Regions from separate parts of the Homo sapiens genome. Here all the other regions are linked to region 3. Evidence: fine-mapped expression QTL. A gene starts in region 3. Each other region holds a variant in brackets. All regions are shown on one strand. Distances are from middle to middle.

Region 1 (8,003 bases), 110 kb before region 3:
CCCAAACATCCCTCCCTCTGTGACCCGCATCCCTGCTCTCTTAGCTTTCAGGTCCCAGTGCCTCTGTGGCTCTTGTCCTTTGCCACTGGCCACTGAACCTGTGGGTTTACTTCTCTCAATGTCTTTTCAAGCTGCTCCGTGCTTTACATGGTGGGTGACGGAGGCTTGGCTCACTGGGATTTCATGGCCTCCTGATTTCCTTATCTCCCTTCTATGCATTCTATAAATTACAATGCAGTTATCTTTAGAAAATACAGACCTCGGGTGGGTGCAGTGGCTCACATCTGTAATCCCAGTACTTTGGGAGGCTAAGGTGGGTGGATCGCTTGAGCCCAGGAGTTCGAGACCAGCCTGGGCAACATGGCAAAACCCTGTGTCTTCAAAAATTACAAAACTTAGCTGGGCATAGTGGCACATACCTGTAGTCCCAGGTACTCAGGGGGCTGAAGTGGCAGGATCGATTGAGCCCAGGAGTTGGGAGGCTGCAGTGAGCCAAGATTGTGCCACTGTACTCCAGCCTGGGCAACAGAGTGAAACTCTGTCTATAAAAAAAAAAAAAGAAAAGAAAAGAAAAGAAAGAAAGAAAAAGAAAAAAGAAAAGAAAAGAAAATACAGATGTCATGACATTGCCATTCCCCTGAGCAAAACCCACAGGGCTGCTCGCTGGCAGCAGAATCGGCCCAGTGTCCCTGGTGTCTTTGTGTTTCTTGCTATTTTAACATCTTTATCTCCCACTATTCTGCCACCATCCAAATACCTTCACATTTCATGGGCTCTCCTGCCTTCCGCTTGGGCCCAGAGAGTTCACTTCTCTTCAAAGTCCCCATTAGCCCTCACTCTCTTTCACAAGTATTTCTTATTTACTTATTTATTTTTCATGTTTTTAGAGATGGTGTCTCACTGTGTTGCCCAGGCTGGTCTCGAACTCCTGGGCTCAAGAGATCCTCCTGCACTGGCCACCTGAGTAGCTGGGATTACAGGTGTGGCCACTGTCCTGACTGCAAATATTTCTTAAGTGCCTGCTGAGCCCAGCATTGTGCTCAACGGGTGACAGGCAGCCAGCAAACACAAACACTGCTCCTGCCCTCAGGCAGTTTAAAGTCAAAAGTGAGAAATCTACAAGTGAAAGTTTCAGAGGATAGACTTGATATTCTAGAGATAAAGGCAGAATTCCTGCTGCCCCACTTCAAGTTTAGTATACACTGAAGGTCTTAACACTTTAGAATTTTATTTCTAAACTTGAAATAAGAATATCAAAAGTTTAAAATGTTAGCTCTTAAAATTAATTATTTTAAAATTAGAATTCTCTGTTACAAACACAAAGAAGAAAGGGCATCAGATGTCAATAATGAGGGATTCTAATTCAGGAGTCACAGTAGGGGAAAAGCAAACCTGGTATTATCCTCCACAGTGAACAAGAGGCCTCACTTTCAAATGTGTGGTCTATTTAGGTTTAACAGCATCAGCTCCCTCCTGCATAACTTTTTGGTTTCTGGGAGGCAACCCTCTCTGGCAGCTACTAAATGTAACTGAAGCCTCCGTTTGACTTCCCAGGGCTGTTTAATGTTCTTCATGAAAATCTGCACCCCTCTTTCCAGTCTCTCTGGGTATAAACATAAGAGACGATCAAATGAGTATAAGAGACTGGAAAGAGGGGTGCAGATTTTCATGAAGAACATTACAAATCAAGATGCTGGGTTTCTGTAAATCTCGTTAGCATCTAATACAGAATCTGGTATGCAATAGTTTTTAAAGAAAGTGATGCTTCACCCTTTCTTCTCTCTGCATTCCCTAAAACGGCTAGCACAGAGCCTGACATGTGGTAGGTACAAACAAATACTTTGACTGGATAATTATGCATGAAATCCCAGACCTCAGGGTGATCAGGGCTTAAGGGGGCAGTGGTAATGGTAGACACAGGACTGCGGCTATAGTCACAGAACAGGCCTCCCAGGCAGCATTCATCCTGAAACACACCTTTAAAGTATGACGATGGATATCATGCTGGCCAAACAATGATCAGAACCTTGATGACACACTGATTCAACCCTGAGCATATTACAAACCTATCATGCAATTTAAAAATGCCCTAATGAATTGGAAAAAGTTCTGAATCTAGAAGCACTGGTTACACACATGCGCGAGCACACACGCGCGCACGCACACACACACACACACACACACACACAGAGGTTTACATATGTATGTTACATGGTACTGTGGTACTGTTATTAACAATGGATATTCTAGAATTGTTCTTTGAATTTGTCTTTAACAACAAGGAAAAGTCATTTTTAAAAGATATTCCAGAAATCAAAACCAGAGGAAAGATACAAATGTTTACTGAGAAAGCAGGAATGTTTTCATTTTTCATTTCATTATCCTTTTCATTTATCTTAAAAACTTTTTAAGAAGTTTAAATTCACCAGTAGGGGTCAACTGCATAGGTTACTACTTAACCATGCTCTGCTTTAATCAGAGTGGTCTCCACAGACCAATACCTACTTTTTTCAGGTGTAGCAAAAAGGTGGTCACACAAACAAGACAAGTCGGGACCATTTACCCACTTGGCTGAATGGAAAGGTCTGAATACGAGATAAACCAGACGATGGAGCCCCTAACCACCACATTGATTTAGAGCCGCTTGTCCAAAATGCAAGCAGTTTGGAAAAATAAACACAGCAGGCAATGCCTGTTCCCCTTCAGCTATCCAGTGTCCTCCAAAACACTATGAGAGCCTAGGTCACTGATCCTACTTTCCAAGTCAGTTGGGAAAGAGTATTCAAAAAGCAGCTCACATTGATAAGCTCAGAAAGAGAGTTGGTTTTTTTCCGATATACGCAGTCTTCAGCAGCCAGTACCCAGGAGTGACAGAGGCGGCCGGTGGGAGACTCTACTCAGCAAAGGCACATTGGCAAGCTCCAGGAGAGGAAAACAAGGTTGCTTTTAGTCATTTGGCGCCACATGTGCCAAATGATACCTGTTACTTGAACTGGGCATGAGGATTGAACTGTCTGGGCAGTAACAATGTGCCAGGCAGCTGAAGCCCCAGGTCCTGGCCCCTGCC[C/T]GCCTGCCGCCTGAATCCCTGCAGTATACAGGGGCCTGCGAGGTGACCCTGGAGCCAGAGCTGTCACAACGACCCTCCTTTCTTCCAAACCAAGTAGCCAAAAGACTGGGATACAGCCCCAGATTTACGATCCTGTTTTCAGCTGGAACTCAGGGTCCCTGACCCTACTGAAGAATTTTAAGAGGTACAGACACTGGGAAAGAAATATACGACTGAGGAGGGAAGAAGAGTATACCTCTGCAGTACTGAAGTGACTCTGAATACACACTTTTTCTTTCTTTTTTTTCTTTTTTTAATAGAAATACAGTTGCCAAAGAGAAAGCAGCAGGCAGAGCTAAGGAAAGGAGGAGTGTTCGAATGATTAATCACACTCACACCACTCTCCCCAACAGGGAGCTCTCATGTGAAGAGTTTAACGGACTTGCCAATTAGTTACTTGTGAATCATCCTCCACTTGCCTAATTTTCTTTCAAAGTTTGTACTCAGCAATTTGTACTGACTTCAATATCAACTTACGTAGTTTTCTTTGTAGGGCGAAAAAAAGGGAAGGAAAACCAGTTCATGTCTTTGCATTTCAGCAACTAAATTGGTCATTTGAGGAAATTTTAAAAACTACTTTTCTCTGCTGCAGTGCAGAACTCAGACCATAATGGGTTCATTTTGGATCTCATTTGACAGAATTGATTATGACAAGAAATAGAAAGACTTCATTTCAATAATGAATTGAGGAATCTAACAAGATAAGATAGATGCATGGGCCCTCAAAAGTCAGTTTCTGTGAAATGCCAGTGGAATTGTTTTATTAAAACAAAACCCAGCCAAACAAAAAAAGGACGTGGAGAGAAGGAGGAACACACTGGTGTTCAGCTTTTCTTAAGGCAGAGGAGATTTTCTTAAGACACTGAAGCTATCTGCTGTTAATTCCTTTAAAAAAAAAAAAAAAGCACCTAGTTCATTTTCAGGTGGCCTCTTTAAATTTAGTAATGGTTCTAAAGTGATACAGAATTATTAATTTTAACTTCAGAGAAATGCTTTTTACTATTCTAATAATTTTCTGTTAAAGTTAATTATTTTTACAGCAGTAAATTTCAAGTCCATAATTGTGATCTAAGTTCTCTCTTAAAAATTAAGCCCCAAGGCCAGGTGCACTGGCTCATGCTCTGGGAGGACGGCTTGAGGCCAGGAGTTTGAGACCAGCCTGGGTAACATAGTGAGACCCCAATCTCTACCAAAAAAAAAAAAAAAATTAGCTGGGCATGGTGGTGCACACCTGTAGTCCTAGCTACTCTGGACGCTGAGGTCGGAGGATCACTTGAGCCCAGCAGTTTGAGGCTGCAGTGAGCTATGATCACACCACTGTACTCCAGCCTGGGCAACAGAGCAAGACCTTGTATCAAGAAAAAAAAAGAAACGCCCTAACAGGAGTGTTGGCTCCCACGCAGTTTTAATAGCAGATGAGCAACCACATCCTTCCTGTCCCACTAGCCAGCCCTCAGCTCTTCTGTGTACACAGAGCCTCAGCTCAGGGTCTGGACCTCCATGTAAACCACAACCCCAGGCCATCATGAGACAATGTCACCGGCAGCCTGGTCAGCGCTGCTTTCTCCAAACATGGCAGCCTCTCTCATGCCTGAGTAAACATATGAAAAATTCCTGGAAATTTTTGGCAATGGTACAGAGAGGGCAGTGGGAGCACAGATCTTTAGGAAAGTGTGCTAACTATCTCAGTTTGCCTGAGGGACCCTATTCTTCAGAGGAAAATACAGGGTAAGCTGTATCAGTACTCAATCTGTAGTCACCCAGGGTGGCAATATGTCACTTAATGCAGGATAAATTCAGATCTTAAATTGAGGGCAGATTAGGACTAGATTTGAAGGGACTTAAGTCAGTATATGCTGAGCATCCTTTATTTGAAATGCCTGCAGCCAGTCGTATTTCAGATTTTTTCAGATTTCAGAATATTTGCAAAGATAATGAGATATCTTGGGGATGGGACCCAAGTCTAAACACGAAATTTATCTATTTCATATACACCTTATACACATAGCCTAAAGGTAATTTTATACAATATTTTAAATAATTGTGTACATGAAACAAAGGCTGTGTTGAGCACTTAACTGTGGAATTTTCCACTTGTGGCATCACGTTGATGATCAGAAAATATTCGATTTGGAAGCATTTTGGATTTCAGATTTTCTGATTGGGATACTCAACCTGTCCCTTGGATTTCCACTTTTAAAAAAAATCCTTAGCATTTACGAATCTGGCTCGCTATATGAAACTTGGGTAACCAATGTCAAATCCTTTCTCAGAAAAAAATGATCATGGCTCAACAGTTATTTAAAGAGTTAAAACAGATGTTTAAAAGTTAGAATGAAGGACCAGGCCAGTGTGGGGAGGAGAGCAGCAGTGCACATTTTTACGTGGTGGGAATCAAGATGAAGAGGAAGATGTACCACAGGACACGCCCAGGATGTTGGGTTCCTGGTGCTGACCACAGTGCTATGGTCACTCCACAGTCCAGCACTGCAGTGCACAAAGGGTGCCCTTTGACAAAAATGCTGCAGCAAGAGTCTGACCAACTTGAAAAGCAGCAAATCAGCAAGATAAAGATTCCTGAGAGTCCTAAGTAGCCTCTACGAAGATACAAAACATGCACACTCACACAGGCTACTGACATGTCTGACAGCAGAAATTAACAGGCAGCTCTGCTAGCCTGTTAATTTCCACCTGGAAATGAGAGTATTATATAAAACCCTCACATGCTCAGTCTCCTTCCAAAGAAAAGTAATATATTTTCCTACTGACTTTTATACCGGTATCATATGTATAGAGGTCCCCAATCAAGAGAACACTTTACTTCAGCATGAACATTAAAAACTTCTTACACAAAATGAAAATTACTATTATATAATACTTTTATTGACAAAAATACAGATCCCAATTGACACAGCAAAAGTCATGGCAAAACCCATTTCCTACTGGAAGCAAATGTTACAAACGCAACTCACCTGGAAATCTTGATCATCAATTCCAAACCTCTCCCGCAGGTTACGGAAGACCATCGGGCAGTATTCCTTAAACTTGAAATGGCTCGGCATGTTTTCTCTGAAACAGTCACAGCGTGGAATAAAGCTCAGAGAGAGTCAATCAGACTTGCATCTGCCACCACTGAGTTCCACAGGTAGCCAAAGAAGGGTTCAGAGTTCACTGCCTACCAAAAGCACAGGTGTGCTTCCTAGAACCAGGTACAACCCGCAGAAAGATCCAGGAGACACAGGGGGCCAGACGGATGTCTGTCTGTCTCCTTTGTCACAGGCACGCTTGGACTATGTGACCTCTTTAAATCCTGGCCACACACTGCAGCCATTCCTCAAAGAACAAGAGGTGGGGAAGGAACGGGCCAGGCAGGGGGAGCAGTGAGGGAAAAGCACAATGGCGGGAGAGTGAGTTAGGAAGAGGCAGCGGAGCAAGGTTCCCTCTCAGCTACTGCTGAGGAAAGGAGGGCCACTCCCTCACCCCCCTAAAAGGCCTGTTTTATATAAATGCCACATTCTAAATTTGCTTAGAGGAAATTCCCTGAAAGTCAGCTTCTAAACACTGTTATGAGAAAAATTAACATCAGCTTCACATAAGGACAATGGCCCCCTGAAGAAATTTCATAATTGGCCTGGCATGGTGGCTTACACCACTCATTTGTAATCCCAGCACTTTGGGAGACTGAGGTGGGAGGATTTCTTGAGGCCAGGAGTTTGAGGCCAGCCTGGGGAACATAGTGAGACCCCTGTCTTTACAAAAAGTTTTTTAAAAAATCAGCTGGGCATGGTAACCTGCACCCGTAGTCCCAGCTATTCAGAAGGCTCAGGAAGGGGGATTGCTTGACCCCAGGAATTTGAGACTGCAGTGAGATATAATTTCACCACTGCACACCAGCCTGAGCAACAGAGCAAGATCCTGTCTCAAAAAAAAATTTCATAATGATCCTCACATGGGAGTGATTTGAGGTTCACCCTAATCATTCAGAATTGTTTCCCTCTTTGTGTTCCCACACAACCAGATAAATTAAATTATACATATGCACACACCCCTCCCTTATCATACTTTGCACACTGAACTATAGCAGTTTGTATATGTGTCAGTTTTTGTACTCTGAGCCCCTTGAGGGCAGGGCCGTGTCTTCTATATCATTGCATCTCTAGCTCTCAATGGACCACCTAACATATAATAGGTGCTTCATAATGACGTCTAAAACAACATTCAAATGAAGGAGGAATGTTATCAATGCCCAACATGGCATCTAATTGTGCCTTATGAAAATGTACCTTGGGTCTTTATTGTTCTAAGATGGAGTCATTGCTGTTCATAAATCATCATTTTCAAAGTTCTGTGTACAAGAGCAGAGGTTCATAACTGCTCAAAAATCCAAGCAATTTACAGCTTCAAAAATTTGAATTATAATGAGAATATCACTTTCAACGTATAAGATATTCATAGAGAACAATATGCCATATGGCAAAGGATATTATCCCAGAGAGCCTGCTGTTGCTTCTCTAAAAATGACAGATGGTTATGTTTATCACAGGATTAACTTCATCAGCAAAACTTTACTCCCACCCATTGACAAATTATGTGATTACAAAAATTCACAAAACTTGTACTCCTAGCAGCCACGCTAGTCTTATGAAAGGTCATACTTGTACTTACTTGTTAAAAAGGTGATTGTCCACCTTTATTTTTGAATAGGCTTTGAAGTCATCTGGCATCAACATAACAGGGATTTGAACATGGCTCAGTTCATTGATCTGGAAAAATATAAAATAAATAGCATGGGTTATTACTATCCAGGTGAGGAGGACTTGACTTGAATGTGTACCTTGGGAAAAAAAACATGGTGGACACAGGAACTTCTCTTCCCACCCACCAACCCACCCTCCTT
Region 2 (8,003 bases), 140 kb after region 3:
AAGATGGTAGTATCTTGTGCTGAAATAAGAGAGGTAGAAGAAGAGCATGGATTGGAAGGTGGGAAGATGCGTGATTTAGGTAGGAACTTTTGCTGTGCCTTTGTGATGTCTGCATGGAGATGACAGGTTGACAGGTGGACAGATGGGTCGGAGGCGCCGATGGAATGTCTGGTCTAGAGATATGCATTTGTGAGTCATCTGTGCAAGTTTGTCATTGCTAAGAATGCCTAAGAAAAGCACGTGGAGTGAGGAAAAGTTCTGGCATAACATGGTGGATATTTAATGGCCAGGTTTGTACAAAGGAAATGGGGTAGCCAGAGAGATGAGGGCAAGACAAAAAAGTCCTGCACCACCAGAGCCTGGCAAAGAGTGTTCTGAACAATCCCAGAGTCCTTCTGTTACAGCTTCAATGTTCTTTGTGTTGTAGATGGCAAAGTTTCTGCTGAGTTTGAGGAAGAAGGGGCAGATGCGTGTGTTTGTGTGTGCATGTGGTGTGAGAGTGGCTGTCACCAAAGGAGGGGAGAAGCTCTGTAGAAGTTTTGATGGAAAGTAGGAGAGTGAGTTAATCAAAATATGTAGTAAGAGGGTCCATCTGAGATTCATTTTTTTTTTTTTTTTTGAGACAGGGTCTCACTCTGTTGCCCAGGCTGGAGTGCAGTAGTGCAATCTGGGCTCACTGCAACTAATGCCTCCCAAGTTCAAGCGATTCTCCTGCCTCAGCCTCCTGAGTAGCTGGGATTACAGGCATGCTGCACCAGCATGCCCATCTAATTTTTGTATTTTTAATAGAGACAGGGTTTCACCATGTTGGCCAGGCTGGTCTCAAACTCCTGACCTCAAGTGATCAGCCCACCTCAGCCTCTCAAAGTTCTGGGATTACAGGCATAAGCCACCGCACTCGGCCCTGAGATTCATTTTTATGCATTTACAATAAAGCCAGTCTGCTCCATTGCGTGCCTTTCTTCAGAAGAGTTCAGCTGCTGGGGGTTGGAATGCAAATAGCTGGATTCATTAGGGGTGAGAGTTTGCCAGAAGAGGGAAACAAACAAAAAAAGCTCAAAGGGCAAGGGAATATAGAGTATTGGCAAAAGGGCTATCAACTTGCTGAACCCTTGGCATCTGCCAGATGAGGAGGATGTGCAGACGGGACAAGGTCAAGGCACTGAGAGACTGAGGATGGAGCTGCAAGCCTGAAATCCTGATGGGGCTGAGGAATGGCCTCAGTGGAAGGAGCTGAGTCAGCCAGGGCAAGGGGAAGTAGTGATGCTCAGAGGACATTTGCTTCAGTGACTCTGCAAGTGGGGGACTGGGGAGTGACAGGAAGACCCAATGTGTGTGCACTAGGATGGATGATTTGAGTGGAGTGGAAGAGCTATTGCAGATGAGAACTTGAGGAATCAGAGGCCATTTGGTACAGCGGAACGCCATGTGTTTGTTGAATTTATTGGGCAGGATGGTGGGACTTTGAGTCCACATGCTAAGACTTTGACAAATGGCTGGGAAGGGAGTGACCAGGAATTGGCTAGAAGAAAATAACAGGAAGGAGTGGTTGAGCTGAAAACCACGAAGTCCAAAAAAGCAAGAATTTTTGCAAGAGGGAACAATAGTAGTGGATGCAAGTGGAACAAGGAGCAAAGACGATGGCAGCCCACCTCCATAATAGGGTGCATGTGAGAGAGAAAGGCATTCCCGGGCAATTGGAAGGAGTGTCTTCTGAGAAGAGACAGCTTTCGGCTGACGCAAGATGCATGAAGGAAGCTCAGGAAGAGCAGAGGAGGTGGGAGAGTTTCTCTGATGGCAGAGGGGAAGGGGTTGGGAGGCAACTCGGTGCCTAGAAGTGCAGCATTCTTGTTACAAACACAGACAGGAGAATATGGTAGTCCCCTCTTATCCTCATGAGATGTGTTCCAAGACCCCCATTGGATGCCTGAAACCATGGATGGTACCAGATCCTATAGATATTGTTTTTTCCTATACCTACATACCTATGATACAGTTTAATTGATAAAGTAGGCACAGTAAGAGATTAATAACAGTAACTCATAATAAGATAGAATGATTCTAAAAATATACTGCAGTAAAAGTTGTGGGAATGTGGTCTCTCTCTCCAAATATTTTACTGTTCTGTGCTCACCCTTCTTGTGATGATGTGGGATACCACAATGCCTTTGTGATGAGATGCAGTGAGGTAAATGATACAGACATTGTGACGTAGGGTTGGGCTACTATTGACTTTCTGACGATTAGGAGGACCATCTGCTTCAGGTGAACCTGGATCATCGAACCATAATTGATGGCAGTGACTGAATGTCAGGAGCAGATGCTATTGATGACTAATGGGTGGGTAGTACAATGTGGATCCACTGGACAAAGGGATGATTCATGTCCCAGGTGGGATGGGGCGGGACAATTCAAGATTTTATCACCCTTCTCAGAATGCTACCCAGTTTAAAACTTATAATTTGTTTCTTTCTGGAATTTTCTGTTTAATATTTTTGGACTGTGGTTGACCTCGGGTAACTGAAACCACAAAAAGTAAAGCTGTAGATAAGGGAGGACACTATAACAAACTGTAGACCAGGAAGAAGAAAGATGCCTGAAAAATAATAATGGAATGAAGAAAAATAAATCGTTAGGCAGTAATCCCTACCAATATAAAGTCAAATCAGACCAAGAAGATCAGGCCCTCCAGGAGGCCTCTGACCCCTAAGCAAATGGCTTTCAATTTAGAGCAGAGTTTGTTCAAACTGGGGTTTGAACTCTATTTTTAGACAATTCTCTTAACATGTAACCCCAAATATTTATATTATAGCTAAAAAGATTGTACCCTGGTGAAAAAAATAGCTGAATTTAAATACACATATATACATACATACACACATATTTACACACATACACAATCTTGCCAATTAAAGATGCCAATTTAATCAACTCTTGGCTTTCTCTTCATAATGAACAATCTCGAGCCCTTACTTTTTTGCAGAAGTCCCATTTTCTAATCCTGGTTGACTTTAGGGATAGAATGTTCTCCAAGTTCTCCATGCCCCTTAATTCTAGAACTCAGGAATGGACACCCTGCTCCTAGAAAAGTTTGACTAGTACCATGTATAATGGGAGGGTGATCTCATGGTTCCTCTGGGGACTTGGTTTTACATCCTGGCACTGTTCAGTCTTTAAAAAGCTGCTGTTATGACTGACTCCAGCTTATCTATTTTCATTGCTGGCTCGTTTTAAGACATCCTTCCCTGTAGCCAGTCACATCTTATCTTCTATTTGTATACTTCACTTCCCTCTCCTGGAGGGACTCCTACCCTGCATTTATCTTCAGCAAACTTTAAAAAGCATCCTGACCACTGTTCTAATTTAGTAGGGTTATTTTAAACTTTGCTCTTCACCAGCGGGCTGAGG[C/G]TGGTCTTCCCACTCCTCCATTGAAGCAGTGACTAATGTGCTCTGAGTTTCCTTCATGCCAACGCTGTGTTTGGGGATGTCTGTTTGCAAACATTTCAGCCTGAATTTTTCTCTGCTACTCCTGCGGCCTCCCTGTGCTGGGAGCACTTCTGTGGAGGTCAGGCCTTGGTCAGTGTCGATCCTTGTTCCTTTTGGCCTTTATCAGTTAAGAGAATCAGCTGGGTGCAGTGGCTCACACCTATAATCCCAGCACTTTGGGAGGCCAAGGTGGCTGATTCACTTCAGGTCAGGAGTTCAAGACCAGCCTGGCCAACATAGTGAACCCTCGTCCGTACTAAAAATACAAAAATTAGCTGGGCATGGTGGTGTGTGCCTATAGTCCCAACTACTTGGGAGGCTGAGGCAGGAAAATTGCTTGAACCCAGGAGGCAGAGGTTGCAGTGAGCTGAGATCATGCCACTGCACTCCAGCCTGGGCAACAGAGGAAAAAAAAAAAGAGAATAAATTCCCTAATATTTCAAACCTTAGGTCAAACGTCTGTAGATGTTAATGTTGAGGAGGACTATTTCTAAATTAACACACAGACAACAAGAACTTAATCTTTTAGATCCAAAATCAGCACCCGTACTATTATTATTTTTTTGGTTCTTTTATATATTATATATCCCAGAGACTATGTCTGTTTTGTACTGCAAGAGCCGGTGAAATGTCTATCCTTTTTTTTTTTTTTAAATAGACAGGACCTTGTTCTGTTGCCCAGGTTGGAGTGCAGTGGAATGATCACAGGTCACTGCTGCCTTGAACTCCTTGGCCCAGGTGATCCTCCCGCCTCAGCCTCCCAAACAGCTGGGACTGCAGGCATGTGCTGCCATGTCCAGCAAATTTTTAAATTTGGTGTCAAGACAGGGTCTCGCTATGTTGCCCAGGCTGGTCTTGAACTTGTGGCCTCCAGCAATTCTCCTGCCCCAGCCTTTGGAGTAGCTGGTACTACAGGAGCACCATTGCACCTGCCTGGTCGTAATTTTTAACTCAACCATTCCAGAGGGTAAGAGTATCATTAAATAGTGAAAGAAAGAATGAACGCAAAGTCAGAAAATGCAGGAAAGGATGCACAGAGGCAGCTACAAATCCTCCCTCAAGCCAGGACTAATCCCTTCCTGTCCAAGTTCCAATGGCTGATGCTTCATCTTTCTTCCTTTCCTCTGGTCTACATGATTTCTCTGTAAATGTTGTTACAAGCATTTGCATCTAAATCTTGTTTTCTCTATGAAACTACAAACCTGCAGAGGGAAGTTCCTGATGGTTGCTAATCTATCTCTATTTCACTCACAGTATTTTACCTAATGTCTTAAAACAGTCAGTGCTCAATAAAGATTGGTCACAGCGGCTCATGTGTGCCATCTCATCTCAATGCTTTGGGAGGCCAGGCAGGAGAATCGCCTGGGCCCAGGAGAGCCAGACCAGCTTGGGCAAGAGAGTAGGACATTGTTTTTTGAAGGAAAAAAAAAAAAAAAAAATGAGCCAAGCTTGGTACACACCTGTAGTCCCCACTGTGTGGGAGTCTGAGGTGGGAGGATCACTTGAGCCTAGGAGGAGGAGGCTGCAGTGAGCTATGATTGTGCCACTGAACTCCAGCCTGAGTAACAGAGTGAGACCTTGTCTCAAAAAAAAAAAAAAAAGAAAAGAAAAAATTTGGCTGGGTGCAGTGGCTCATGCCTGCAATGCCAGCACTTTGGGAAGGTGGGGTGGGCATATCATTTGAGGTCAGCAGTTTGAGGCCAGTCTGGCCAACATGGTGAAAACCCCCCTCTACTAAAAATACAGAAACTAGCTGGGCGTGGGGGCATACACTTGTAATCCTAGCTACTGGAGAGGCTGAGACAGAAGACTCGCTTGAAACCAGGAGGTGGAGGTTGCAGTGAGCTGAGATTGCACCACTGCACTCCAGCCTGGGCGACAGAGCCAGGCTCCATCTGAAAAAAAAAAAAAAAAAAAAAAAAAAGTTGACTGAGTGAACAATGAAAGAACACATGCAATTTAAGAAAGTTTAGTCCCAAGTTGATTTACTGTTTTGGCAAAGTAATTTAATTTTAATCGAATTCTCTTCTAATTCAAAACTTTAATTGATTTAAATAATAATAAGATGAAAAATAACCAATTTGAAATCTAGAGACACAGACTGGCAAATTGGATAAAGAGTCAAGACCCATCAGTGCGCTGTATTCAGGAATCCCATCTCACGTGCAGAGACACACATAGGCTCAAAATAAAGGGATGGAGGAAGATCTACCAAGCAAATGGAAAACAAAAAAAGGCAGGGGTTGCAATCCTAGTCTCTGATAAAACAGACTTTAAACCAACAAAGATCAAAAGAGGCAAAGAAGGCCATTACATAATGGTAAAGGGATCAATTCAACAAGAAGAGCTAACTATCCTAAATATATATGCACCCAATACAGGAGCACCCAGATTCATAAAGCAAGTCCTGAGTGACCTACAAAGAGACTTAGACTCCCACACAATAATAATGGTAGACTTTAACACCCCACTGTCAACATTAGACAGATCAACGAGACAGAAAGTTAACAAGGATATCCAGGAATTGAACTCAGCTCTGCACCAAGCGGACCTAATAGACATCTACAGAACTCTCCACCCCAAATCAACAGAATATACATTCTTTTCAGCACCACACCACACCTATTCCAAAATTGACCACATAGTTGGAAGTAAAGCACTCCTCAGCAAATGTAAAAGAACACAAATTATAACAAACTGTCTCTCAGACCACAGTGCAATCAAACTAGAACTCAGGACTAAGAAACTCACTCAAAACCACTCAACTACATGGAAACTGAACAACCTGCTCCTGAATGACTACTGGGTACATAACGAAATGAAGGCAGAAATAAAGATGTTCTTTGAAACCAATGAGAACAAAGACAAAACATACCAGAATCTCTGGGACACATTCAAAGCAGTGTGTAGAGGGAAATTTATAGCACTAAATGCCCACAAGAGAAAGCAGGAAAGATCAAAAATTGACACCCTAACGTCACAATTAAAAGAACTAGAGAAGCAAGAGCAAACACATTCAAAAGCTAGCAGAAGGCAAGAAATAACTAAGATCAGAGCAGAACTGAAGGAAATAAAGACACAAGAAACCCTACAAAAAATTAATGAATCCAGGAGCTGGTTTTTTGAAAAGATCAGCAAAATTGATAGACCGCTAGCAAGACTAATAAAGAAGAAAAGAGAGAAGAATCAAATAGATGCAATAAAAAATGATAAAGGGGATATCACCACCGATCCCACAGAAATACAAACTACCATCAGAGAATACTACAAACACCTCTACGCAAATAAACTAGAAAATCTAGAAGAAATGGATAAATTCCTCGACACATAGACTCTCCCAAGACTAAACCAGGAAGAAGTTGAATCTCTGAATAGACCAATAACAGGATCTGAAATTGAGGCAATAATTAATAGCCTGCCAACCAAAAAAAATCCAGGACCAGATGGATTCACAGCCGAATTCTACCAGAGGTATAAGGAGGAGCTGGTACCATTCCTTCTGAAACTATTCCAATCAATAGAAAAAGAGGGAATCCTCCCTAACTCATTTTATGAGGCCAGCATCATCCTGATACCAAAGCCTGGCAGCGACAGCACCAAAAAAGAGAATTTTAGACCAATATCCTTGATGAACACTGATGCAAAAATCCTCAATAAAATACTGGCAAACCGAATCCAGCAGCATATCAAAAAGCTTATCCACCATGATCAAGTTGGCTTCATCCTTGGGATGCAAGGCTGGTTCAACATACACAAATCAATAAATGTAATCCAGCATATAAACAGAACCAAAGACAAAAAACACATGATTATCTCAATAGATGCCGAAAAGGCCTTTGACAAAATTCAACAACTCTTCATGCTAAAAACTCTCAATAAATTAGGTATTGATGGAACGTATCTCAAAATAATAAGAGCTATCTGTGGCAAACCCACAGCCAATATCATACTGAATGGGCAAAAACTGGAAGCATTCCCTTTGAAAACTGGCACAAGACAGGGATGCCCTCTCTCACCACTCCTATTCAACATAGTGTTGGAAGTTCTGGCCAGGGCAATTAGGCATGAGAAGGAAATAAAGGGTATTCGATTAGGAAAAGAGGAAGTCAAATTGTCCCTGTTTGCAGATGACATGACAGTGTATCTAGAAAACCCCATTGTCTCAGCCCAAAATCTCCTTAAGCTGATAAGCAACTTCAGCAAAGTCTCAGGATACAAAATCAATGTACGAAAATCACAAGCATTCTTATACACCAATAACAGACAAACAGAGAGCCAAATCATGAGTGAACTCCCATTCACAATTGCTTCAAAGAGAATAAAATACCTAGGAATCCAACTTACAAGGGATGTGAAGGACCTCTTCAAGGAGAACTACAAACCACTGCTCAATGAAATAAAAGAGGATACAAACAAATGGAAGAACATTCCATGCTCATGGGTAGGAAGAATCAATATGGTGAAAATGGCCATACTGCCCAAGGTAATTTATAGATTCAATGCCATCCCCATCAAGC
Region 3 (8,003 bases):
ACCTGCCTGAAACTGCCTGGCAGGCCCTTTCCCCTCTCTGGGGACTGTTCTTTCCCCAACGCCAACAGGCAAGCGCTGCCATGTTTTTATAACTGCTTAGTCCAAGGGACGGCCACAAATGACCAAGGCCAGACCAATCCCAAGTGGAATCCTTCCACGGTATTTTTATAACTGAATTAGAGACAGGAAACCCTTTTGGGGGAGCAGAAATGACAAAATGTGAAATACAGGAACCGTTCATTCCCTGCTCTGTGGAGGAACCAGCCAGCTATGAAGGAGAACTGAGCCAAAGGGTACAGAAAAGTCCCACGCACTCACACACCCACACACTCAAGCACCCAGCTCTTCACATGGTTCCATTACCAGCCTTTCCTTCTACTGTGATAGGCCCCCCAAACCCCTCAATACCTGACATTTTTGCCAAAGCTCATTTCAACTTCTACAGCTTTAAACCAAAAGCCTCTAACATCAATACTTAGCTACTTCTAAATGCTACATGTTTTAAACAAGTTTTATGTGCTTTAAGATTTTTCTATACAGATAATGTTTTCCTTTGGATATTTAAATAGGTTTTAAAATACTAATTTCTAAAAGGCTCACATTTCACTGTGGATAAAAATCTTTTAGAGTATCTATTTAAAACAAGTCTTGGCTCATATCATTCAACATCCTCCCCACACTATTAAAATATCATCTTAAGACGCTTACTGTTTGATCATTTTTAGTTTAATTCTAAATGTAACAAGACAAAACTGCCTTAAGTCTTTTCCTTTATGTATTCAGTTATATTCTCTGCTTAAAATACTTAAAAATTGGCACTGATCCATTCACTGATGGGTATTTTAAGTTACAAAGCAGTAACATATCAAATTAACCACACAATGGCAGGCTTACTCCCGACTATGACCATTGCCCAAATCAAGATTTTCATTACCACCTCAATGGACTTGAACATTTTCACCTTAATTGCAAGTTGTTATGTTTCAATCAAATCGACTTTGGCTTAATAGACTGCAATGCAGTTCAGCTACATTCAATATAACAAACCCTTAGTTCACAGTCTCTTAAAATCACCATAGATTTCCTTCCCCTGTAGTCAAGGTCTTGAAAATTCCCTGAATGTTGCTGCATTTGGAAGGTTATAATAGTAAGACAACTTTTATATAGTATTCTACAAATCCTAGTATAACACTGTGCACCTAGTAGACTGAAAAAACAGAATCTTGAGTTAGACTTGGAAATCATCCAAACAACCTCAGTTCACAGATGCAAACACTGATGCCAAAACCTGACCTTAACATGCCCAAGGTCAACAGTTAGAATTTAAGAAAAACTTAAAGCGCAGATTCAATGAGCGTTTTACCACAGTATGTGGAAGATGCTCGTATACAACACCATGCTTGTTTGTTCTTAAGACTGCTGACATATTTATTCTCACATTATACTATAAACTTTGGTGCACAGAAGGTCATATAAAACATTTATCTAATATCAGACATTGTCACCTAAAATGAAATCAAACCAGAAATACATGGCATCTAAGGGTTTTAGATTTCATGTTTATATTACACCTCCATTCTTTTTTCAAAAATAATATAGTAAAGAAAATAGACATTTTGAAAAAAAAGGCTGTGAAACAGACCTTTCTTATGTCAACTCAGAGCCCTCAAAATAAAGACAGTTGGATAAAAATATTAGAGGTGTTTTAGCAATTCTTCCCACAGTAGCTGGCACTGTATGTGCCCAATATATATCTGTTGAATGAGTAACATGCTTACATTTATATGAAATGGAAACTTCACTCCTCTGGTTGTGGATACTTAGAACTGCCAACTTCTCTTGAGAGCAAAAGAAAATAACACCAAATGTACTATTTACAAGTCATACACTATGAAACACTTAAGTAGTTTCAAAATATTTCCAATTAGCAAGAAACTCTAAAACAAATGTAGCAATTCATAAATATAAGGTAGCAACGTAAGTGGTTACAGTAAAACATACACAATTACAAGATTTTTTAAGGCAAACTGGAATTCAGACGAGTTCCCAGAAAGCACACTCTTTTTCGGCAGCATATTGTTGACACTACCTTACTAAATTAAACCCCGAGACAGAAACACTCTCCTGACCAAAACACCAGAACTCCAAAGGAGATAAAAGCACCATAAATATGAGTAAGCACTACAGTATTCATCCTTTTTTTAAATTGTAAGTTTCTATTCTAGTAATAAGGGACCCAAAAACTACTAACATAAATAATAAAAGAGCTTAACAAAATTATACATAACTCTACATTGTAAACTTATTACTTAGGAAAAATTGCATTTCATTTTCCGTAATAAAACTTGAGAGAGGAGTTTTTGGTGCAGTAATGCATGCTCTTGTAACAACTTACATTCCCAAATAGCTAAAGAAGTTGCCAGGAAGTTAAAATGAACTTCAGTGAGTCAGTCATTAAGCTGGATAAAAATAATCATTTCTCAACTTTTCCAAAAACACTCACTCCATGCAAACACGATCGATCCTGATACTGTTTTGCCCTTCCCCCTGCTCAGCTTGGGGAAGAAAAATACAAAAACGATGCTTTTAGGCATTTTAAACAACTTCACTACATTGAGGGTGTGTGTGTGTGTGTGTGTGTGTGTGTCTGTGTGTGTGTTTTCCGAAAAACCAGCATGGTTTTCTGTCATTTCCATTACGCTGAAAAGGACATACAGACATCCATCGAAATCAAAAGCAGGGAAAGCGAACTTACACTTTTCCCCAGATGCTAAGTGACTGCAGTGGCTAAGGTCATGGTCAAAATTCACAGCTCGTTTAAACTTTCCTGGCTGAGCCAACAGCTCCGATCATGTTTCCTGATCCTATCGAAGTGGATTAAAACTGCAGGAGTTTCTCGCTGTCAGATCAGCAGGAGGCTATTTCAGACCCTCGAACCGCAGTCCGCATAGCCCGCAGCGGCGCATCCTCCAATCCCCGACTGTGCGTGACGCTAACCTTTCCACGCGTTCTCCAGCCTTTCCCACACCCCCCACAGCGGGTGCGGCCAACTCGGGACCCCCTCCGCCCGCGCCCGCCGGGACCCCCGCCTGCTGTCCCCGCCCCGGCCGCCCTTCCGCAGTCGGTGACTTCTGCCTGACTCCCCAAAGTGGGGGGAGGCGACGAAGGGAGGAAGACTCCCCGCCAAGGGCTCTCCAGCCCGCACAGCGGCAGGGCGATGCGGGAGAAGCGCAGGGATGCCGCCCGACGCCAGAGCCATATTTACATCGGCTGCTGCTTTGCCAAAAAGCCGACTTGTGCCCAGTAATATTGCCTTTAAAGGAAAAAGAAAGGACCTAAGCACTAAAGCTGCTGCCCCAAATCTGCTCGCGCTCCGGTATCCTCGCCCCAGTGCCCCAGTGGGAGGCTCGCACGCGCCCAGCCCGGGACAGGTACACCTGCCCGCAAGCGGAAGACGCGGGCGCCGCGCGGCCCCCACACCGGGTAGCGGTCGCCCGGACCCGGCCCCCAGCAGCTCCCGCCGGGGCTGACAGCCGAGGCGCCGTGCCCCGCACAAACTTCCTACCTCCCAGGCTGCGGGGACCGACCTGCGGGCGGGCGGGCGGACCGGGGGCGGCACTGGCACCCACCGTGAGACTCACATGCACACGGGACCCCCGACCCGCACCGGGCCATAGATCTAAAGGGGACGCAAGTGGTGGTGCCTGGGCGGCCCAGAGGGCTGGGGGCACGCGCCGCGGGGCTGGGGGCTTCGAGGCGGGCGAGCAGCCGGAGGTCCAGGGCTGACTCCGGCTCCCCGCCCCGCAGCAGCTGCAGCCGGAGGAGGAGGGGAACGAGGAGGAAGAGGAGGAGGAGGAAGGGGACCGCGCGCCGCAGCTGAGCCCTTACCGAGTGGTTTACCCCCCACATGAGGACGCTGAGCAGCGGGTCGCTGGCCCGAAACAGCTTCACTTTCTGCGCTACGAAGTGCTTCTTCTTGGTCTTGGTCTTGCTCGCCAGGACAGAGGACCCTAGGTTGCCGGGGGTCGCCATGGCCGCCTCCTATGTCCCCTCCACCGCCGTGCTCCCGAGGCCGGGGACCCGCCCTCTCTACACCCCGGCCCGGGGAGGCAGCCGCATCCCCCCGGCGGCGGCCCCGGCGCGCCGCGCTCCGCTCCGCCCGCCGCCGCCGGCGCGCTCAGCCCCACTCGGCTCGCTCCGCCCGCTCGGCCCGGCAGACTGCGCTCGGCTCGCGCCCCGGCCCGTATCCTGCGCCCGCCGCGGATCCGCGCTCAGCCCGCGGCTGGACCCGGCGCGCGGCGAGCGGCTTCCGCGTTGGGCGCCGGCGTCATGACGCAGGGGGCGGGCGGGCAGGCGGGAGGCGGCTGCGGCGCCGCGGGCGGGGCACTGGGTGCGGGGCGCGGGGCGCGGCAGCTGGACCGTTAGGCTGCGCCTTCCCGCCCCGGCTCCGCTGCAGCCGGGCCGCCCCCTGTGCGCGGGCGACCTCCGGGCGTTCGCTCCCTGCCCGCGGAGGAGGCCGTGGGTTGCGAGCGGGAGCCTGGGGACCCCGGCTAGGCGTCCCCTGCCGCTCCCCAAGGAGGGAGAGGACAGAGTGGGCAGAGTGAGGAGGTTGGGGAGAGGAGCCCCCAGGCGTCGATCAGGCGAAGGAGGGAGGCTCATGCACTCACCCACGCCACGAGTCAGGAGACCCAGCCAGGTGTGAAATGCTGCAGGGAGACCAGGGCTTCCCAGCACCGAGGGGAAGGACCCGGGCACATTGCCGGGTCAGTCCCTGAAATGAACTTAATACTTTTGTGCGGATAACCGTCTGGCCTTTCAGACCCTCGATATGGGCCTCCTGGAGCCATTCAAGAGGGAGACTCCCACGTAATAGGCTGGGCTGTCACTGCCAACCCACTCCGTGCCCGGGGCAGGAACCTCGGACCTCATCGAGAGCCCTTGGCTTAACCAGTAGAATCATGCCCCAAAGTGCACCTTCTTCCAATCCATCACTATGGTACTTGCCATCCCTGCCTGTTTTCCAGTGCACTCACCGTCCGTGGAAATCTGTTCACCGTCTTCCTCCAGATACACCTAAATGTAGCCCTTATTATGCTGAGAATACTTGGCCTACCTCAGGAAGCTGCCATTCCAAGTATGTCTAAAACCCTGCTGCCCCCATATCGTCCTTGCAGTCGTCATCCTGTGCTATTTACTCTGACCCAGCTCACCAGTCCTCACGGAGTAGGTTCTTGGAAACTGTCACCTTAAGCAAAACAACATATAACAAAACCAAATTTGCCATAGGCTGACATATAAAAAAAGAGTTAAGTTCCTACAGCATTATTTCCGGTTACAAAAACATCACCGAACTTCAAAGTAAAAATTCAAAACACTTCTAATATTAAACATTAAAATAAATGTGAGCTATACCTCTTTTTTATTTTTATTTTTTCCCTTGAGATAGGGTCTCGCTGTGTCAACCAGGCTGGGGGTGCAGTGGTGCAATCACAGCTCACTGCAGGCTCTACTTCCCCAGACTCAGGTGATTCTCCCACTTCAGACTCCCCAGTAGTTGAGACTACAGGCGCGCACCACCAAGCCTGGATAAACTTCTTGTATTTTTGGTAGAGATGGGGTTTCACCATGCTGCCCAGGTTGGTCTCGAACTCCTGGGCTTAAGGAATCTGCCCACCTTGGCCTCCTAAAGTGCTGGGAATACAGGCACCAGCCACTGCACCTGGCCTACCTACATTTTTTAAAGATTGATAAAAACAAGATAATGGTTTGCCAAATTTCTAGTGATTAAGTGAGCGATGGTTGCTGTGGTGCTGGGTTAAGTCAAGGAATAAGTGTTTGCAAAGCAAAAGTTGCCTGTAGGACCTGCTGCTACCATGAAATTCAAAAACAATCACAAATATGGTAGCTGAGTGCACTCCTATCTCATTTATTGTCGTGCATTTTTATGATTAATGTACACTTACATATTTTTATTTTACAGTCATTTGTTTCACGGATTTATTCATTTTTCCAACTCATTTATTCCAGTTCAAGGTCACAGATAGTGGGAGCCTTATCCCAGCTGCTCAGCTTGGGCAAAAGGTGGGAACCATCCCTGGATAGGATGCCATTCTGTTGCAAGACACACACACACACACACACACACACACACACACCACACACACACACACACACCCCTACACTCACTTAAACTGGGACCATTTAGGAAGGGGGCAGTGATTCATGCCTGTAGTCCCAGCACTTTGGGAGGCATGAGGCAGGTGGACTGCTTGAGCCCAGGAGTTGGAGACCAGCCTGAGCAATATGGTGAAACCCCATCTCTACCATAAATACAAAAATTAACCAGGCATGGTGGTACACACCTGTAGTCTCAGCTATTCTGGAGGCTGCAGTAGGCGGATTGCTTGAGCCCAGGAGTTGGAGGCTGCAGTGAGCTGTGATAATGCCACTACACTCTAGCTTGGGTAATAGATGGAGACCCCGTCTCTTAAAACAAAAAAAAAAAAAGAAAAGAAAAACTACTGGTATCATGTAGACAAGCCTATGAACTGAACGTGCATGTCTTTAAGATGTGAGAGGAAACCAAGGTACCCAAAGAAAACTCTTGCAGGCACGAGGAGAACCTGCAAATACAAACAGTGGTCCCGGCTAGAAATCCATTTTTTTCTCATCAACATTATAACAAAACAACATTGAACAAAATGACAGTATTTGAGGACCCGCTGTAAGTTGTCTGTTGTCATTATTACTCCACTCAAATATAGTAGATACCTTCTGTGCCCTTGGCAGACTGCTTGGTCCTGTCAGGGAGATGAAGGATGACAGGCCATTATCCCTTTAGGATCTTGAGTCTCCTCAGGGGTTGAGGGGAGGTCATGTGGTCACCTTCATTTGCTCCTATTCTTTCTTTGACTGTTTTTTAAGTCCCCTCGTCGTAATTTCCTGCTTGCTTTCATCCAAAATGATATCTGCTTCTCCAGCATCAACCATCACTGCTCTTAGTGGTTTAAAAAAGCCCAAAACCTAAATTTTTAGTGAGACATCACGGGGACTGAGCTGTAGCTCTCCCACTTACTTGAGCAAATCACTTAACCTCTCCCAGCCTCGGGTTCTTTATGTTAACAGTAACTATCATCAGACACAAATGTCACTTTAGGAACTATTTTGAACCTAGTAATATAATCCTCCCCTACCTACATTATAGGATGTTTGTTAGAATCAAAATCAATAGTAGATAATGGCAATGAAAACCCTTTGTAAACCAGACAACACAATAGAAAATGTAGAGTGCTTGCAAGTAACTCATAAACTCTTCCCCGACCCCAGAGAAATGCCTGGTTGCACATTTGTACATCATTTTTCCACAGGCATCTTTTAAAAGTGTCTAAAACCATCTGGGCATGCTGGCTGATGCCTGTAATCCCAGCACTTTTGGGACGCCAAGATGGGAGAATCACTTGAGCCCAGGAGTTCAAGGGTAGCCTGGATATAATAGCGAGATCTCATTTCTACCAAAAAAAAAAAAAAAAATTTAAATTAGCTGCACATGGTGGTATGCATCCTGTGGTCTCAGTTACTTGGGAGGCTGAGGCAGGAGGATCACTGAGGCTGCAGTGAGCTATGACTGCACCACTGCACTCCAGCCTGGGCAACAGAGCAAGACCCTATCTCAAAAAAAAAAAAAAAGATATCTAAAGCCAAGTTTGACATCTTTCCCCATCCACAAGTTACTTTATTTCTTGTATTATATTGGAAATGGCATTCATATCACTCGGTTACCCCAGCTGGAAGTTCTTTTATTTAACAAATTTTCATTGGCCAGGCTTGAAGGCTTACCATCATCATCAATTATTGCCTTTCACCACCACCCAACCTAAACTCCTTTATTGGATCCTGCCCTTGAAAACAATTAGACTCAAAAATCCTCTCTTCCCTGATGCTTTCCTGATCCTCCTAATTCAAATTCATCCTTCCACCTCAGTGCTTCCATAGCATTTATTTGT

Direction of the effects. Positions count from the first base shown, and alleles are read on the strand shown. Sizes are in standard deviations (SD) of each study's normalised expression. Not every link is listed here.
For the expression in left ventricle of the gene that starts at base 4,284 in region 3, C is the high allele of the variant in region 2 and G is the other (small effect, 0.24 SD a copy in GTEx).

The links.
Region 1: its variant is fine-mapped to the expression of PIP4K2A in whole blood (TOPMed, PIP 0.97).
Region 2: its variant is fine-mapped to the expression of PIP4K2A in left ventricle (GTEx, PIP 0.95).

Annotation. Positions count from the first base shown.
Region 1 is chr10:22,601,849-22,609,851 of GRCh38, forward strand. It overlaps PIP4K2A (phosphatidylinositol-5-phosphate 4-kinase type 2 alpha), which reads right to left. Exons shown (of 10, transcript NM_005028.5): 2 at 7,772-7,869; 3 at 6,079-6,175. Among named protein-coding and RNA genes, the nearest start is that of PIP4K2A, 110 kb to the right of the region's middle. RefSeq lists an enhancer at 3,245-3,394. The variant C/T (reference allele first, on the strand shown) is at 3,068.
Region 2 is chr10:22,851,879-22,859,881 of GRCh38, forward strand. LOC105376451 (a long non-coding RNA gene) reads left to right here and starts at 2,222. Exons shown (of 3, transcript XR_930749.3): 1 at 2,222-2,340. The variant C/G (reference allele first, on the strand shown) is at 3,409.
Region 3 is chr10:22,710,295-22,718,297 of GRCh38, forward strand. PIP4K2A (phosphatidylinositol-5-phosphate 4-kinase type 2 alpha) reads right to left here and starts at 4,284. Exons shown (of 10, transcript NM_005028.5): 1 at 3,889-4,284. The coding sequence starts at 4,032. RefSeq lists silencers at 3,020-3,129, 3,430-3,549, 3,720-3,799, 4,100-4,769 and enhancers at 3,930-4,538, 4,539-5,146.